Linked DNA regions of Homo sapiens. The protein of the gene in region 2 interacts with the protein of the main gene of each other region in a pairwise test. Each region holds a gene or a part of one and is shown on either strand. Other genes may lie near its edges.

Region 1 (3,651 bases), on a different chromosome or scaffold from region 2:
GTACTGAAATAAAGATAAGTAACCCTGGTAAGATCCATCAGGACCTGAGTATTGAACTTGAAATAAAAAGACATTTCTTCATCAGCAAATGACTTGAAAAAATGTGAGGAAGAGAAATGATTACAGTTGCCTTTTAAAATAAAATAATCATGATTCAACTGCTTTTAATTTTTTTAATACATTTTGTTGACTTGCTATTCTGGAAGACATCTAAAAGAATAAGTTTTTGAAATGGATAATTATTACATGAGTCATTAAACAATTATTGCCAAACATTTCCGATAGACCTACAATGTATTCTACTTACTGATTCTAATGTGAATAATATGATGATTTTTTTAAATTTCAGAAGAAAATTTAGCTTTGAAAGAAAGAACTAAAATTTAAGGAACAATCTAACATTTGGAATATTGTATTATAAATGTAACAATTCAAACGGTCATGTTTCATAAAAATAAATCATAATGCTTAAAAATTTTAAACTCATATTCTATATCTTAAAAATCATTATGCTAATAAAAATCTGAAACCTATTTTATAAAGTAAGTATTTTATTTTACAAATGGATATTGGCACTAAGTTACCTGGCCCCAGTTAGTCGCATTTCACGTGATCTCCCAGGAGACTGACACATTTTGTATGGCTAAAGTTTTAAAATCCCTTCAATTCCCAAATGTACCTTATTCTAACTGTTGTTACAGATAATTAAAAAAAATAGATTATGTCCTGAATTTAGGAGTTGGATCCTGTAGATCATCCAAGCATACACCCAGCAAGTCTTTTTTCTAACAGAGAACCAACTCTAAGAACCATCCCAGCACACTCAACTCACATGCCCTGAACAATAGATAAAATTCACTTTATATCTACTGAAGTATCAAGAAAAAGAAAAACACTGACTAAATTCCCCAGTCTCTTTACTACAACAAAATTTTAACTTCATCAAGTACAAGTAAAGGTAGAAAAGAAAGGTTTCATAGTTTTCAGTGTTAATATGCATTGTTATAGTCTATATGTGTAGTGGCCTCCTGCCAACATCCCAATCATTCAAAGCCTTCTGGGGGGGAAAAAACCCACAATGAACTATGAGATTTTTGTTCATGTTTATGTCTTTGTCCCCTGGCACTCTAAAAATAGATAGGCATCAAAGGGCAATATAATAGTGTTCAGTTTTAACATTTTCAGGTAGAGTAAATTTGTACTATTGAACAATTGCTGTACGATTTTCTTAGAAAAATATTGGCAGACCTTTAACTATATGATATTAGAGTTCCTAATAACACTACTGGAACATGAGAAGTACCTAAAAGTGTTTTATAAACTTTAAACCACATTGGAGGTTACAATTAATTAGTCAGAAACAAAAACCAAAATGTTTCCAAACCAGATGCTTTGAGCCGGGGCACTCCAGCAGATAACTATAGGGTAGGTAGTTCATTGGCTTCCACGTCCTCATTTTGGGCTGCTGGGCTGTAGACTCATACACTCAGCTCCTCCTCCATCAAAAGAGGCTTTGCAGACACAGGCCTCAGGACCCCATCCCCAACAGTCACAGGAGGGTTCCGGATACCAGGTCTGTTTTTCATACTGTATCTCCATGGCCTAATATAGTGCTGGCCAGAGTGGGCACTCATCAAAAATTTGAGTGGATTAATGAGTCCCATGAGCTTTATTTAGTGAATATAAGGCAGCTCACAGTGAAAAAGATCATTTTGACAGGCCAGCAAGCCAAGTATGAGAGGCAATCTCTTGCAGAAACGATGCATTAATGGAGCCCAGGGGTTCATGTCAACCTGACCCCTGGCATTTAAGAAACTTTATTTTCTAGCTATTCCTACTTTATTATACCACTTGCCCAGTTAGTCAGATTTACATATTGTTTAAGGGTATGACTTCTGTCATCTTGTATTACATAAGCAACTTTCCATGGATGGAGGTGGCTAAGATTGGTAGGGGGATGACCTAATGATAGGCATCTATCTCTTCAGAAGTGAACCTCAATAATCCACCATGATGTTTTGGGAGAAACCTCAGGCTGACATTTTTCAAATAGGTTATTTTTAAATAATTGCTTCAGGTAAGATTGTGCCATTAAAGTATTACCCTCAATTGGGTTACACCAAAGTGCTCACACTGTTCCCATGTTTTGATTTTCCATATTGATGAAGATTACATAATTTCCGTTCATCAGAGAAGCAGCAGAATTTGCGATTTCTGATTCCCAATATAATTTGCTTAATTTGGGCCCTTTGATTCCCAATATAATTTGCTTACTTTGGGCCCTTTGAAAGTTGTGAAACATGTGATCTCTCACGTTCAACTTTGACAAAATTGTTTTTATCTGAGAAAAGGGGCCAGCCTCTCCTTCCTCCCCTCTATGCTTCTGTTCCTTTCTGCTCACTACACAGAAACACACTGGAAGTGCTTGGAATGGGACATAAAGGTCACCCAGCTCAAACATTCTAATGCCCACCCTCCGCTGCTCCATCTCCTCAGCTGTTTTCTCTTTTTCTCAAAATTCACAGAGACCAACGGTCAAATCCATTCCAGCTGGAATGGAGGCAGCTTAAGGTGACTCTGTCTTCAGACACCTGTAGGCTGTTTCCCTGGCTGGGTTGCTATTGTGTCAGTCCCAGCTCTGTCAGCCTCCTTACTGCAGGTGCTTCAGACACCAGGCATCTACAGGACCAGAGAAATCTATTCTCCGCTACCCTCTGGGGGCCAAGGGAGGCTCTCTTCGCAGTTGCCACAGCCAAAGGCCAGGCTCCCTGCCGGCCAAGGCTCCCTGCTGGCCAAGGCTCCTGCTCGGTGGGGAGGCGCTGTGCAGCCGGCCACTTACCTCCCAGAGATGCTGCGTGTTCCTCACGGCGCCTGCCTGCACCTTCTCTGGGGGCAGAAGCACGCCTTGGAAAGGTCCAATCCAGGTGCCTTGCTGGATCCTCTGCGCCGCGCAGATGCCGTAGGCCAGGCCGGGCACAGTACTGGTGCAGAGGCACACCTCGCGAGGCAGGTCCCGCAGCCACTCCGGCAGCTCCGGCGGGGGCGCGGCGGCCGCAGCGCTGCTGGTGCCCACAAGCCGGCGCAGCGAGTGCAGTGGCCCATGCATAGGGCACTCGCCGTTGCGGTTGTCCGCGCACATGTCGCAACCTGCGGGAGACAAGAAGGAGGAAGGGAAGGGAGCGGGTTAATCCGGCCGCCCCGAGCGGCCCATCTTTGAGTAAACTCCCGAGACAACAGCATCACCGCCCGCCTGGGTAAGCCACCTTCGAGGAAGGTGATGCCTTGGGGGCACCGAAGCAACTCAGAGGAGGAGGAGAAGAGAACCCGCGCCGCTCCCTTGGAATTCGCCGCACCCAGATCTGCCTGGTACCGGGCCAGGACTCTAGGCTCCCCAAAAAGCCTTCGGATCTGGGCGCAGATAGCATGTCCGCTCTCCACGGAACCGACAGTTCCAGGCTTCTTCCTCCCGTTTCAGTCTCTCTGCATCTCTCCCTCTGTCTCTGTCTCTCTCTCTCTCTTCCCTACTGTCTCTCGTTCCTTCTGACCCTCTCGCCCATTCCTGAGGTTTCTATCTGGAGTTTCAGGATGTGTTTATCCTTGTATTGCGAAAAAAAGCCCGTCTCTTGCCCAATCTGCTGTCTCGAAGAGATT
Region 2 (3,651 bases):
GAACATTATATTCTCAACTAAAACAGCCAATTCAACGAATACTGACTTAGTGACTCTTTTCTATACTTAAGAATACCTGTTTCCACAATTTATTACATCAAAAAAGAATAGGATGATGAGAACATAGTACAGTACACCCTCACTGGAACTGATCTACGCCCAGTTCCACAAATTGCAGTGCAGTGTAAGCAGGCATTTTGCCACATACCTGTGTTGTGGCTGTGATGGACAGAACAAAGGTGGGAACTGTGGAGCAGCTCAAATTGAGTAGACGACCCTGGAAAGGTAAGAGAGAGCCCTGGGATGAGCTCTGTCTCAGATTCCAATGGCATACAAGTCAAGCCAAAGCGGGAGAGGACTTTACACCCCTCTAGACTCAGTTGGAAGAGGAAGAATTACAGTTCCAGATCAGGACTCTAGGCTTTTTCCTATTTTCTGCAAATCCATCTGAGTCTGAAAGGTTAAAGAATCAGCTGTGGTTAGGAAATAGTGTTACTTAGTAAAAAGTAGATTTTTTTAAAGTGGTTTTATTTTGGGGACCAATTTGTGAAATATCTCTCTCTCCAAAGATAAAATTCAGGGAAACATAGGCCTAATATTTGTTTCCCTCCCCTCCCCCCTCATAGATCTAACTACTCTGCTTGTGCTGCTCTGCCAGGGTCCTTCTCTGTGTGTACCTCTGCCAGGAGGACAACTCGTTTGCCATCTGGCCAGATGACATGGTCCACCTGAGAACGTACTCGCTCCCACGTCAGCTCCGGAGTGCGGAGGCTGGTCTGAAAGGAAGAAAGCACAGTTGACTATGGTTATTAATGAAAGGTAGTAGAGAAATGCCTAGCAACAAATGAGAGAAGCCTTACCACATCGATTTCTGTGTTGGAGTGGCCCATATTGCATACGATACAACTGTTTTTCATGCGATCCAAGTGCTCCCGTGTCACTACATTCTTATTTCCTAAAAGAAAAGATGGGTGGTTAAGGAAAGAGATGCCGGGCAACAAAGGTACTGGCTGGCTTTCAGGTAGAACATAGGAGACCAGAGGCTTGCTGGCATTAAAGAACATGTAGACATTCTGAGAGAAGACATGCATAACCGCTCCTTAGGCTATCTGGTCTTCAGATCAAGCAGTATAAAAAGTCACCAGGGAAAAAAGTTTTTTACTCTGGAAAACATGTTAAGGTTCTGATAGCTTATTCTAGTTCTGAGACCTTTATACTGAACAGAGGTCTCACCTCCTTTGTATGAAAGTCACTCAGACTACTTTCAAGATTTAGCCTCTGAATAAACACTTCTCTATGCAAGTTATTTACCTGTGCAAGTTATTACGACATCGACTTGCCGGATGACTTCATTTAGCTTTACCACCCTGAACCCATCCATGCTGGAAGAAAAGAAAGGAACACTATGAGTAAAGCAAGAAGGCAGTGGGAGGGAAGATGGTCATGAAATGAGACAAGATCCCCTTCTAGTTGGATCCAGTGCCACCTCACAGGAATGGTGAGTGATAAGCTCTGCTAAACTATATACACTGGCCTCTTCAGAGTCCCCAAGACTCCCTCTAGGAAGGAAAAATGCCAAGAGGCTCTCAGAGAGCCCTAGGGTTAGAGTGAGAAGAACAGAGCAGTCCTAGCCTTCTCTTCCCCTAGGTGATTTCTGCAAAAATGATTAATATACTCAATTATGAACTCTCAATAACATAAAGCACCTAGAGTGAATCTAATAGTATTATCACTCTGTTCTTACCAGGCCTGCAGAGCACAGATGGGGTCGATTTCGGTAATGTAGACAATTGCTCCAAGAGCTTTGAGAGCAGCACAGCAGCCCTTGCCTACCTGCAGAACAAAAGAAAGGTCAAGTCGTTAGGTTCATTAAGTCATGGATATTTAGGGTAGGTAGGTTATTTGTGAGACAGGAATTAACCTTCATGAAATAGCCTGTCATCTGGTGAGCAGCTGCACAGACGCTCCAATCCCAAGCAGAACAGAAACAGACCCAGATTACGTTGTGAACCTCAGTTAGAGAGGTAATTTAGCAGACATGTCATAGGAAGGACTGGGGCTTTGCATAGCAGTTTTCATCAGGGAAACAAGACTAAGCAAAAGCAACTTACTCTAAGCAACCTCTAATTTCCTATTCTCTTACTTGAGAAGAATCTACTCAAGGATACCCTCGTAGCTCAGGAACTTCTTTGGGTCATTGCTGAAGACAACAAAATATGTGACCTATTCCAGTTTGGAGATATTCAACTATATGCCATTTCAGATTCCACCCTTAATTCTACTGCAAGTCACTTGTGGGGCTAAAATGCTATATATTCACTTGAATTAAGTCTCATTAAAGGTTATTGTTATAATTGGGGAAGATGATACTAGTATCTATTCCACAAGGCAAAATGGTAAAATCTGAAAACTCAATTCATTTTGTATGTTTCTATTCATAAATCTGAATAAAAGGCTTTTGCTATTGTTTGAGATACATTATCTAAAAAAATTTAAACCTTGTATCAGTGACTCTAGATTGACAGCACAAGCCTCCTTTACCCAATATTTCTAATAAGTACACAAAAAGAAAGAGACACTGAGACCCAGCTATTTACCTCACCATAGCCACACACCACCACTTGTTTCCCACCAAACATCACATCTGTGGTCCTCTTCAGGCTGTGGAAACAGACAAGGGCTCAACTCAAACGTTAATAGCTCAAACTCAGTCCCTCTTCACAAAGTTAAAAGTGTGGGCCAATGCCCATGAGAATATCAATTGGAAGCTGGTTGAGCTCAGTATGAAATGGTCCCTCTAATAAACTTTTAAAGCCAAAGGAAGACCAGAGCCCCTAGAAGTTTGAATATATATACATTCAACCTACCCATCCAAAATGGATTCTCGGCAGCAGTACAAGTTATCAAACTTCTGTTTGGTAACAGAATCATTGACGTTCATGGCCGGAACACAGAGCTTCCCAGCTTTGGAGAGCTGATACAGCCTAAAGAGAGAAGAGGTCACAAAAACAAACAAAAACCAAGTTAGCTGGCACAACATAATTTGTGGCAAAATCTGCCTAATTCTCTTCAAGTTCCATGCTGCCCTTCCCAGTCTCATTTATTGCCCAAGGATATTAGAAAACATGATTATTTCCTTGTCATCCCTCCACACTTCTTTTCATTTTCTTCTCCCTTTACCCCTTTTTTGGAAGAAAAAAAAAAGCCTTTCAATTGAAGAAATGTACTTCTCTTCCCTTTATAGGGAGTGTTATTTCCTTTGATCAGCATTTTTCAATAGAAACCCATGCCTACTTCTGATAAACAAAGACTATCAATGATTCTGATATGGTTCCGTGTGTGTGTGAGTAAGCATGCGCAATGTGCCCCCAAGAAACACTCTTTCAGATATCTTTTCAGTATTCCAACAAGCCAAGAATATTTTGCCCAGTTTTACTTTTTGTAGTGTGTATAACATGTAGTTTTACAATAGGATTGTTTTTCATATTTCAAATATAAAATGATAATACAATATTGAATACAGTTTTTCAAGATACATTTATTCCCTACCCGCCCCTCAACACTAGTTGAGAATCACTCAATGGAGTAAATGGGAGAGAAAAATGTATGAACTAGAACCTGAAATAACTTCCTTCTAGGATCAACTTGATT
Region 3 (3,751 bases), on a different chromosome or scaffold from region 2:
TGTCTGCGTCCCCTCTGCTCTGTGACCTGAGGACACTGACTCAGACCAAGGCCTCACTGCCTGGTTCCTGGAGCTCCTGATTCCTGGGAGAGGAATGCACGGGCCTTCAGTGTGCAGACTGCAAGCACAGCCACGGATTCCCAGAAGTCTCAGCAGGGTTGGCCAGACTCCGTGAGGTCCCCACTCTACTTGGGTGGAGGGTCCCCTCTGTGCTCACTCAGGGCCCTCACCTTTCTCCTTGTAGGGCCTAATCCCACCCTTTTGCTGGCTTGAGAATCTCTCATGTCAAGAACTCACATCCCTGATATGGTACAGAAGGAGATGAGGGGACCCACATCTGGCCATACGTGACCAGGTCCTCCCGCGAAGGACAACGAGAGATGTCCAAATTCATTGGAGTCCAGGTGTCCTGGGTGACGAGTCCGCTTGGTCCTCACGTCCACTCCTGGCAGGGCCTGAGACCCTCCCTCTACTGACCTGACTCCAGCCCCTTCAGACCAAGGCCTCCCCTTCCCTGACATCAAAGATCCCAGGATAATGGAGGGACTTCAGCTGACAGCCCTGCCCAGGGTCTCTGAAGTAACCGCAGGGGCAGGGCAGATTTCTATGGGGCCCCCTGTCTGCATTCTGGCCCAGGAGTACCCTCAATCCTACCTCAGGCTCTCCACCTGGATGCTTGGCAGATCCTAGAACCACTGCATCTGTCGACCAGATGGGGGCCCCTGTGTTGACCTGAGTCACCTTCTGAAAACAAGGTCATCAACTCCCTGAGATCTGGAAACAGAAGTGAGGAGGGGCCACATCCTGTTACCCCCACGTGCGTTGTCCAGGGCTGACCCCTTTGGTTCTAGGGTGAACGTTATGATGGCCTCCTGTGGGTTACTCATCTTTACTCCTGCCAGGGACTGCCCTTTCTCAACCCCCAACCCCCTGAAATGAGCAGACAGCTCCTCTTTACACCAACACCTTATCTCCCTGAGGGTTCCCCAACCTCCTGCCTGTGGTACAAATGAGATTGTCACTTAGGGCCATCCCTGATCAGGTTCCCCCAGAGCTAAGAACAAGGGACGGCCAGACTCTGTGGCATCCCTTCTTTCTGGGCCGGGGGTATCCCCAGTCCTCATGAAGGGGGCACACCTTGGGTCCGGCAGATCCTGGGATTCCTCCCTCTGCTGACCTGAAGTCCCAGCCCTCAGACCACAGCCCTCAACTCTCTGTCACCCTGAAGGTGCAATGAGCACGGGGCACATTCGGCCACTGTGCCCAGGATCCCCCAGCCCAAGGTTGCCACTGATCTGGACTCCAAGGTCCCCTCAGTCCTCCCTCTTCTTCCTCCCCTTGACTCCTCGCAGGGCTGGGCCCCAACCCCCTGCTGAAGTGGGTCTGCATCCCTAGGATTCCCGCGGCTGAATGAAAAGGTGGCTCAGTTTGAGACAGGGGTACAGTGGGCCCCCTGTCCTGGCATGCTGGGTCCCCTAAGGACTCCACTGTCTTCCAGGAGGGCCTGGGCCCTTCCTCTGCATCCCAAAGGCCATACTCACGAGACCCAACCCCTTCCCTCCCTTAGCCGTACATGTGAACGTCAGGATCCGCGTGCTTGGCCGCCATTCCCGGAGCTTCCGTGGGTTGATTGCAGGGGCAAAGCCCGGATTCTGCCAGGATGGTGGTGGGGGAGGAGATGGGAATGGGGTTTGGGGGTGGGGTTGGTGTTTGAGGGATGGGGGTGGGGTTGGTGTTGGGGGATGGGATTGGTAGTGAGGGTAGGGGGTGGGTTGCCCTCAGTCCCCTCTTGGGGTCCTGACCTTGATTCCTGGCTGAGTCTGGGCCCTGAGCACTTCTAACCAGCCCTGCCCTGGTCACACAAAGCTCTTACGCCAGAGTTCCCTGCGGTTAAAGCGGCGGGGGGTGGCGGGGTGAGGTGGTGGCGACTCAGCCTGAGAAGTCTTCCCCTGCAGGGTGGTCCAGGCCCGGCAGCAGAGGCAGCGCTGGATTATTGGGGGCCCTCTGTCTGGGGTGAGGCCCGCCTCAGTCCTCCCTCGGCGTCTTACCTTGCCTCCTCACGGAGCCTGCGCCTGCTTCCCTCCGCCGACGTCAGGCCGTTGCTCAGGGCGAGAATCTCGCTGTCCTCTGACCTCCAATGCGCAAGTCAGTGGCGTCACATCCGGGCCCGTGACTTCCCTGGGTTCACGGCAAGGGTGGAACCGGATTCTGCCCGGATGGGGATCTGGATGGGGGGGTGGGGGTAAGCATGAAGATGGTGTTGGTGTAGGGGTAGGGATTGGGACGGGGATCCTGAGGCTGTAGATCCTGGTGGGGTCGGGGGAGTTGGGGGTGGGAGGGGCCTTTGGTCATCCCTCAAGGTCCTGACTTGGATGCCAGACTGAGCCTGGACCGCCATCCTCTGCCGATTGTGTTTGCTCCCCTCAGACCAAGTCTCTGACTCTGAGTCGGCCCGAAGTGGCATTGGGGGGAGGGGTGTGCTCGGGGTGAGATCATTGCCAGTGTGTACCAGGGCTGACAAGAGGGGCTGAGCTGGATTCTGTGGTCCCACTATGTGGGTGAGGGTGGATCCTCAGTCCTCACTCAGGAGGGTCCTCTTCCTCACTCCTGGCTGTTTGATGAAGGAATGGGTGGGAGATGCTCTGTTTCTGTCACCTCTGAGCATCTGCGCATCTGCGCATCTGCACCCCTTGTAGAGAATGGCTGCGGGTGCCAGGCCAGGTGCTCCCTGCAGGGCAGGAGCTCCCGCGATGATAGTGACCTCTGGGAGAAGACGCACACCTTCCCACGGGGGCTCCTCCCCAGCCAGAGCTACACTTGGCAAACCTTTGGTCCTAAATGATTTATTCTCTGAATTGAAGAAATACGGTTTACATATCTTCTAAGTATATATGTAGGTAGCAATATATATATTTATTTCTATGAACTAACACCTACCCTTAGTATGCATGATTCACTCTGATATCCTAGTCTACTTCCATTCCAGTCTTTGTGTTCTGTTGAAAGAATTTTTTTAAAAAACATAATTCCTCTCCCACTCTGTTGGTTTCAGGTTGTTATTAGCAGAACTCTGGAGCCATGCTGCCTTAACAAACCCAATTTTCCTGGTGGACACTGCTATTACCTAGGGCTCTTGGCATCGTGTTTTCAGGGGCTGCCTCAGATTGTGCAATGAAGTGAAGTGGAAAATTCAAAACTTTTATTCTACCCATTCTTTCATCTGCCGTCTAGGCAGGCTACAAACCTCCCCAACATCTCTGCCGCTAACCCCCTCCAACAGACACTGCAAGTGTCACACACAAGTACCAGCTCAACACAGTCTCCAGTCTCACTCTGGGCTTTCCCTGTTTTGTTGTGTAGATTTTCTTGCTGATACTGGTGTTTTACTTTCTGTTTCCATTCTATAAATTTACAGGGTTGATTTGGGAAGCAGAGCACAGCAGCCCAAATTTGCTTGTAATGTCGGCGGCTACAGGTAAGGCACTAAATTGTAAATAATTTAAGCTGAGTTTACATTTTTACACTGTTGTGTTCCCCGTGAATGAATATGTTATACTCCTCTATGGATTTCAAGCTCTTTTTTCCTGAATATGTCAGTATACTTCGGTAGTTGCCTCTATAAACAACTTATACATTTTTATTAGGCTTCTATTCAGGTAATTCTTGGATTTTGTTGCTATTGCAAGTGGCATATTGTCTATCAATTGTTGTAGTTAGTTATTGCTTTCGTGAGGTGAAGATTTTGATTTTG

What was found.
Region 1: the proteins of AHCYL1 (region 2) and PRDM6 interact in binary tests that used the Homo sapiens proteins (3 or more experiments, as listed by UniProt).
Region 3: the proteins of AHCYL1 (region 2) and MAGEA2B interact in binary tests that used the Homo sapiens proteins (3 or more experiments, as listed by UniProt).

Annotation. Positions count from the first base shown.
Region 1 is NC_000005.10:123,099,150-123,102,800, reverse strand, and holds part of PRDM6 (putative histone-lysine N-methyltransferase PRDM6), read right to left. Parts: intron 3,575-3,651; exon of another isoform or gene 3,264-3,574; intron 3,148-3,263; coding exon 2,840-3,147; intron 1-2,839. UniProt on the Homo sapiens protein: Putative histone methyltransferase that acts as a transcriptional repressor of smooth muscle gene expression.
Region 2 is NC_000001.11:110,015,677-110,019,327, reverse strand, and holds part of AHCYL1 (S-adenosylhomocysteine hydrolase-like protein 1), read right to left. Parts: intron 2,985-3,651; coding exon 2,868-2,984; intron 2,662-2,867; coding exon 2,598-2,661; intron 1,834-2,597; coding exon 1,745-1,833; intron 1,383-1,744; coding exon 1,312-1,382; intron 956-1,311; coding exon 861-955; intron 777-860; coding exon 678-776; intron 454-677; coding exon of another isoform or gene 409-453; exon of another isoform or gene 278-408; coding exon 209-277; intron 1-208. UniProt on the Homo sapiens protein: Multifaceted cellular regulator which coordinates several essential cellular functions including regulation of epithelial HCO3(-) and fluid secretion, mRNA processing and DNA replication.
Region 3 is NC_000023.11:152,712,980-152,716,730, reverse strand, and holds the start of MAGEA2B (melanoma-associated antigen 2), read right to left. Parts: upstream 2,104-3,751; 5' UTR 2,049-2,103; intron 1,885-2,048; exon of another isoform or gene 1,803-1,884; intron 1,653-1,802; 5' UTR 1,574-1,652; intron 775-1,573; 5' UTR 655-774; intron 84-654; exon of another isoform or gene 1-83. UniProt on the Homo sapiens protein: Reduces p53/TP53 transactivation function through recruitment of HDAC3 to p53/TP53 transcription sites. Also represses p73/TP73 activity. Proposed to enhance ubiquitin ligase activity of RING-type zinc finger-containing E3 ubiquitin-protein ligases.